Linked DNA regions of Homo sapiens. The protein of the gene in region 2 purifies or fractionates together with the protein of the main gene of each other region. This does not show direct contact. Each region holds a gene or a part of one and is shown on either strand. Other genes may lie near its edges.

Region 1 (3,867 bases), on a different chromosome or scaffold from region 2:
AAAAGGTGTGGCAAAATATGGCAGGATTGCAGAGGAATATTGAAAGCATGGTTAAGATTAATGATGACTTTTTAATGGCAACATACTATTTGTGATTTTCTCCAGTAGTACTTAGAAGCCAAAAGACTAAAACTACTAATCACTTCCTCCAGACATACAAACTAACCTCCATCCACACTCATCCTTTGCTCTCCCCTCCTACTGAAATGGTAGTTGGATGTATCCAAGTTTAAATTATGCCAGGAGCACGCCCCAAGACACAGTGGTACAAGGGAATTTAGGATAAGGGTAAGAATGTTTGACATGATAGACCATGCAACCTGTGTTATTACATTTTTCTCTTTTGGCCTACCTGATAAAAAGCAACCTGTATTATCAAAGACTGATTTATGGACAATAAAGTGATGCATGCTATTTATCTAGACATGCTGTTGAAGAACAGGTGTAATGAAAGTAAACTGGAAAGACTTAGAGCGATGCATAGGGTTTTGATTTTGGAGACGAACAATTACAAAGAACATAGCTATAGGAATGGGTATCTGAAATAGAAGTGTGACTACTTTCTACTTTTTCAATTCTTTTAGTTTTATGATATACTGCTTCCCTTCCACAAATACTGATTGACCCTGTTCTAGAATCTAAGGGATACAGGAGTGCACAAAGCAGAAAAAGTCCTTTCTCTAATGAAGCTTACATTTTAGCAATGGTTTTGAAATGGTCCAATCCTAATTTTGAATTTCTTTCATGCTGTTTTAAAACTTTGGGGTTTTTTTGTTTGTTTGTTTGTCTATTTGAGATGGAGTCTCGCTCTGTCGCCCAGGCTAGCATGCAGTGGCGCGATCTCAGCTCACTGCCAGCTCCGCCTCCCGGGTTCATGCCATTCTCCTGCCTCAGCCTCCCTACAGGCACCCACCATCACACCCGGCTAATTTTTTTTTTTTTTTTTTGTATTTTTAGTAGAGACAGGGTTTCACCGTGTTAGCCAGGATGGTCTCAATCTCCTGACCTCGTGATCCGCCCACCTCGGCCTCCCAAAGTGCTGGGATTACAGGTGTGAGCCACTGTGCTCGGCCAAAACTTTGTCTTTATAGCTCAAAATTTCCACAATACTTTGACATGTATTGTTATTTGATCCACTGAGAAGTGAGGATTACTGCCATATCAAAAATGAAGAAATTCAGACCAAGAGAAGTTAAGTTCAATAAAACAAATGTTTACTGGCTATCTATGTGCCAGCCATACACCCTGTTAAGCTGAGGATATAGTGATGAATATGGGCCACTGTCAGCTGTTCATAGATAAGTAGTGAAGACAAATAATTGCAAGACTGGTAAATGTTATAAAAAGGTGTTTGACAGTCCCATCGGGGGTGAGATGGGAGGCAGTAACAGATCATCAGACATTAGATTCTCATAAGAAGTACACAACACAGATCCCTCGCATGGGCAGTTCATAACAGGGTTCACACTCGCATGAGAATCTAATGCTGTCGCTAATTAGACGGAGCTCAGGAGGTAATGTTAGCGATGGGGAGTGGCTGCAAATACAGATAAAACTTCACTCAGTTGCCCACCACTCACCTCCTGCTGTGCGGCCCAGTTCCTAACAGGCCACAGGGACGCCTGTTCTAAAAGATACCTGAGCCTTGACTAGCAGTTGGCAATAGATACAGGGAGATCATTTCAGAGGCTGCTATAATGTAGTAATAGTTAACATTTATGAAGTGTTCTGCTACACACTGGCTAAACACTCTATAGGAATTGTCTTCTTTAATGTGCCTAACAGCACTTCAAGGTAAATAGAGCTGGTCATGGACTTACTGTAGTTTCGCTTAAGCTTTTTGGCTTTACAATGGTTCAAAAGCAACACATATTCAGTAGAAACTTTACCCATACAAACATTCTGTTTTTCACCTTCAGTACAGTATTCAACGAATTACATGAGATATTCAACACTTGTAGGCCTTATGTTAGATGATTTTGCCCTATTGTACGCTAATAAATTAAGTGTTCTGAGCACCTTTAAGGTAGGCTAGGCTAAACTACCATGTTTGGTAGGTTAGGTGTATTAAATTTATTTCCAACTTCTATTTCCTTTTCTAAGAGACAGGGTTTCACTCTTTTGTCCAGGCTGGAATACAGTGGAGTGATCATAGCTCACTGCAGCCTCGAACTCCTGAGCTCAAGCAATCCTCCCACTTCAACCTCCCCAGTAGCTGGGACTACAAGCACATACCACCACACACTGCTAATTTAAAAAAAAACTTTTTTTTTTAAGACACAGGGGTTTCATTATGTTGCCCAGGCTGGTCTCGAACTCTGGGCCTCATATGATCCCTCCCACCTCAGCCTCCCATGTAGCTACATTTACAGGCATGAGCCACTGTGCCTGGCTCTCAATTTATGGTACTTTCAATTTATGATGGGTTTATCAGGATATAACCCCACCCTAAGTTGAGAAGCATCTATATATAATTATGATCCCCATTTTTCGGATGTAGAAAAATGAGGTACACAAGTTATAGCTTGCCTAAATTCACCCAGCTCATAAGTGGTCGTCTTAATCCAGAGCCCTTGTTCTTTTTTCTTTTTGAGACAGAGTCTTGTTCTTGTCTCCCATGCTGGAGTGCAATGGCACAATCTCGGCTCACTGCAACCTCTGCCTCCTGGGTTCAAGTGATTCTCCTGCCTCAGCCTCCCAAATAGCTGGGATTACAGACACCCGCCACTACACCGAGCTAATTGTTTGTATTTTTAGTAGAGACGGGGTTTCACCAGGTTGGCCAGGCTGGTCTCAAACTCCTGATCTCAGGTGATCCAGCCACCTCGGCCTCCCAAAGTGCTGGGATTACGGGCGTGAGCCACCATGCCCTGCCGAGCCCTTGTTCTTTTTTTTGGAGACGGAGTCTCACTCTATTGCCAGGCTGGAGTGCAGTGGTGCAATCTTGGTTCACTGCAACCTCCACCTCTGGGGTTCAAGTGCTTCTCCTGCCTCAGCCTCCCAAGTAGGTGGGACTTCAGGCATGTGCTACCACACCCGGCTAATTTTTGTATTTTTAGTAGAGATGGGGTTTCACCATGTTGGCCAGGCTAGTCTCGAGCTCCTGACCTCAGGTGATCCACCCACCTCGACCTCCCAAAGTGCTGGGATTGCAGGCGTGAGCCACCATGCCCTGCCGAGCCCTTGTTCTTAACATTACTATATCAGGCCTCTCCCAGCAGTCTAGATGAGATGATGGTCATTTAGACAACAGTAGTGGGAATGAGAAATAAAAAAAGTGTCTAAGGTACACCTGTCTGATTTAGTGACTGACAGGAAGTCTGGTGGCAAAAGAAAGGGAGAAGTTAATAATGACAGCTAGATTTGAACAAATGGAGAATTTTGGTGAAATACCAGGTTTGAATGGAAAAGATAATGAATTAGTTTTGTTCTGAACAAAAGACATCTCAGAGATATCTAGAAAGAAGAAAAAAAAGGATATATCAGCTTAAAGGACAGAAAGGTCTAGGATATATCAGTTTAAAGTCAGAAAGGTCTGGGCTGGAAATATAGATTTGAGAGACCTTACCATATAATTGAAGTTACTGAAGAGATGGAAGAGTATGAGGCCACTTGGACAAATATGTAGAATGAAGAAAGGACTAAAACATAATCCTGAGGAAATGAACATTAGGAATCAAAGGAGACTGACATGGAGTGGCCAGGAGTAGGAGGGTCACATAGGGTAAGCTGTAGTGCACCTAGTTTCAGTGCTCTTCCACTCAAGTGCCTAAATACGGTGACAGGGCTGCACAGACATAGTATTTATGGTTCTAGTGCCTTTACAGCCCCCACCCCCTAAAAGAGACAAAGACAGAGAATTCTTTT
Region 2 (3,842 bases):
TTCTGTCCCAGCAAGTTAACTTTACACATCCATTTCATCTCTCCATGTAAGGTGTTGGCCCTGGTCTGGTAAAACACCCACAATAGGAACATTTTACAGGAAACTCATTCTACTCATAACTCAAAATGGAATGGCCAAGTGTAGGCTGGGCATGACTGTGAAGTCAGAACCACTGAATTAGGAACATCAATTGGAAGCCTCTGAACCCCCCTCCCCTTTTCTACCAAATTAGTAAATCCATCCTGCCTTCCTGGAAGAATCGCAGAGATCAGAGCCGCCATCAGAGGCTTGAAGGGTGGCAAAATTCTGCCAACCAACTCCTGGCTCACACTAGGAAACTTAGCACTTTGGGAGGCTCAGACACGAGGACTGCTTGAGGTCAGGAGTTTGACACTAGCCTGGACAACATAGCGAGACCCCATCTCTACAAAATGTTAAAAAGAAAAAAAGAGTTAGGTGTGGTTGTGTGCATCTGTAGTCCCAGCTACTCAGGAGACTGAGGTGGGAGAACTGCTTGAACCTGGGAGGTTGAGACTGCAGTGACTGTGGGAGCCCAGGGGGTTATGGTGAGCCATGATCACGCCCCTGCACTGCAACCTGTGCGACAGAGGGAGACTTTGTCTCTTCAAACAAATAAAGAACAAGTACATGAGTTGCTTGAAAGATTCCCAGTGCCTACTTCCAATTCAGAGCGCGGTGCTCCACGCAGTTGGGTGCGTTGCTGGGATTCAGACACGGAGTCTCCCCAAAGCAGCAAGTGGTGATGCAGCTAGGAACGGGCAGGCCAAGCCCCCCACCCAGCCCCCCGAGGTTGATGTCCCTTTCCACTTGACACAGAAAAGAGGCAACTCATCCTACTGCATTTTAAAATAAAAATACTTTATTGATGAAGTCAGACAGCAGCTAACAGTTTGAGAAGCTTGGGAAGAAATCACTTTCACATGGGGGATATATGCAACCTAGAACATATTTGGCTAAGTCATAAAATTAACATTTTTAGTCATCTGTAAAGTGCTGAGACATTTATTTCTGGTGCCTGCCTGTGTTAGGATTTTTTTCTTGTTATCCGTCCAGTAAGTGAAACACTGAAATACACGTTCAGCAGGATGGCGCTCACTAAGTATGCACCTTGACATGATGGTGTGCACTCATTATGCACGTTCTCACGCGGGGCTGGCTCTGCAACTGCAGAATAGAAACTGATGCGTTCTGCAGAGGAGGCGTCTGCACAACAGACAGGCTGGCCCGAGGTCACGCCTCTTGGCCTGAGTCCCGCTCAGTGACAGCAGCCAGCATGGCCTAGCACCAGGAGTCATTCGGAGCGTGCGTGCTAAAGCAGACACAGCATTCCACGTCAACAGGGGCAAGAAGCTGCACGAAGGAACTAAGCAAGACTTCTCTGCCTATCTCCTCTAATACTAAAGCACACACTTTTCTCCTGTGGATAGTCACTCTATTTATACGAGAAGGGAGGAATAATTTGGTGTTGATGCTTGAGTCCAAATGTTGATAGGCACTGAGCATTTTGGTTCAAAGCAAACATTATTTGTGAAATGCTACAGATAATACATTGACTGAAACATTAACTGTTAATTTTTTAATAGAAAAATGCAATACAAAAATATTACTTTGTTAAAATATACAGTACACACATTATACCACTTTGGAAAACCCAGCTCACTTCTGAAAGCAAATCATGCTAACTGGACTGGTAGGTGTTACCTGGCTTTTAAAATTGTTAACAAATTTTACTCTGAAATTCAAAAATATAGAATATAAATAAAAGTCGTGAATCTGAATCAGGTAAAACTTTTAAGAATTGTTAATAAATGCCTGCACTACTGAATACATATATTTTCTCATAAATTCTTAGTCTGCAAATTCTCTAATATGATACAATAGGTCTGACGCTGATGAAGTTTAACATTTAGTATTCACATATGGACTACAGCAGTCAAAAAGAATGTGGTATTTTCCCAGAACTGCACTCAATTACTCGAAAATTGCATCAGTCTTCTGCCTTCGTGAGAAGTGCTTGTAATTACTTCTGCTGTACAGAAGAGAAGGAAGGAATTGGCAGGGACACCACCATTACGCTATTGCACGTTTCTCCCCCAAATACTGTTTTTAATTTATTCCCAACCAGTGTAGACACAGCTTAACCACTCAGGCTGTAGGATTAGCTGAGAAGTCACCCTTGATTGCAAATTCTGACAGCAGAAGGCGGCCGTCCTGCTTATATATTCAGCAGAGGGATCTGCCAGACCATGACGGTCGGCGCCAGCTCTTCCTGGTGGGGCTGCCGGGCCTTCCTGTGCACCCGGCGGTGGCCCTGCCCTCCACAGACCACCAGCGCCGAGCTGGCCTTGGCTTTCTTGGCCCGGCGTGCTTTGCTTCTCAGCGAGACAGGATCCTTCAGGAGATCATAGATGGTGCTGTCCTCTGATCTGTGCTCTAGAGAGCTGGAGCCGTGAGACAAGCTCAGGGACCCAGATGAGGAGGACAGGTCGCTTTTCTGAGTCATCGATCCCAGCGAATCTCCCAACCAGATGGCTGCGTCAGGGTCACCCTGGCTCAGAGATGAACCAGCTCCTCCACTCGGAAGTGCGTCCTTCTGGTCTTCGTCCTGAGGCTCGGGGCCAGGAGCCAGGCTGTCCCTGGATTTGTCCTTGTCTTTCTCGTGCAGAGCCGTGGCCAGGACGATGAATTTGACAGGACTGTTGTGTGCATGGTAGGAGACCATGCCTCTTCCTGAAAAGGGAAACAGTTCAACAGCTGTCTTTTAAAATAGGCAAAATTTGAGACAAGGAAGCAAAAAGTGCAGGGCTTAACCCCAACGCATTCCTCCCTGCCCAAATAACAAAGCCTGTAAGTAACTTGCATACATGAATAATAAGCTACGATGAAAATATCTGGATTATATTCCTCTGGGTTTTTACTTAATGTGAAAAAGGCTTTAAAAATGATTTTCTAAAATAGAAAGTTGTGTTTTCCTCAGCACTATTTCAGTTCTAATACTCCTACTGTACTTTTCAAAGTAATAAAATAGTCATTTTTCCATTCTGCATAAAATACCTTCTTACTTACCCTATGGAAATATCCCAAATTTTCCTAAGTCTTGATTAGAAATATTAACGCCTGAAATGTGTTGGTTTGGGAAAGAAATGACTAAACTACCGGCTGCCTGCCATTTTTCATTACAAAAACGTTCTGGGGTTCAGAACAATTTAACTCTATAATTTGATTAAAATTAGGACTTTCAGTTTTCAGGTGATGTGATTCAAATTTTAAAGTCACGATCGTATCAGAAACACCTGCAGGTCTTCTTAAAGCCACACACAGCCCCGCAACCCCCACACTGATTCTGTAAGCATCACGTGGACCTGGCGTGTCTTCTGGATGCTTTGTGGGTGACATGACATATGGACAGGGGCACGTGTCCTTTCCCCAAGTGCTTTCAGATGAAACAGGCCCCAGCCCTCACCATCATCCTACTCTGGCCAAGGCAAATGACATCACTGAATCTTCCACCGTGGTGAGAGTCCATTTCCCAAAGAGGAGAGTGGCAAAGTGAAGTCTGCAGGGAGCAGGAGCTGGGGGGACTGTGCAGGGACAGGCCCGCTCATCACCTGGCGAAGCACACACCTGTGATCCCTGCACACCAGCGATGCTGCCCCTGGGCAAGCCCCCAGAAGGAGCTTCTGCCCATGTCAGCAGAGCCAGCCACACAAATATACAGAGGCTTGATGTGTAATGCAAATGGGTAGCACCTAGCTACCATCCAAAGAAACACAGTGAGTGCACGTCCTTTCAGGAAGCACCTAGCTACCCATCCAGAGAAA

Evidence for each region.
Region 1: the proteins of ARHGEF10 (region 2) and PTRH2 purify together in Homo sapiens (affinity purification with mass spectrometry; 3 studies listed by BioGRID and IntAct, with this or other methods). This does not show direct contact.

The regions. Positions count from the first base shown.
Region 1 is NC_000017.11:59,700,931-59,704,797, forward strand, and holds part of PTRH2 (peptidyl-tRNA hydrolase 2, mitochondrial isoform b precursor), read right to left. Parts: intron 1-3,867. UniProt on the Homo sapiens protein: Peptidyl-tRNA hydrolase which releases tRNAs from the ribosome during protein synthesis. Promotes caspase-independent apoptosis by regulating the function of two transcriptional regulators, AES and TLE1.
Region 2 is NC_000008.11:1,955,658-1,959,499, reverse strand, and holds the end of ARHGEF10 (rho guanine nucleotide exchange factor 10), read right to left. Parts: intron 2,752-3,842; coding exon 2,237-2,751; 3' UTR 859-2,236; downstream 1-858. UniProt on the Homo sapiens protein: May play a role in developmental myelination of peripheral nerves.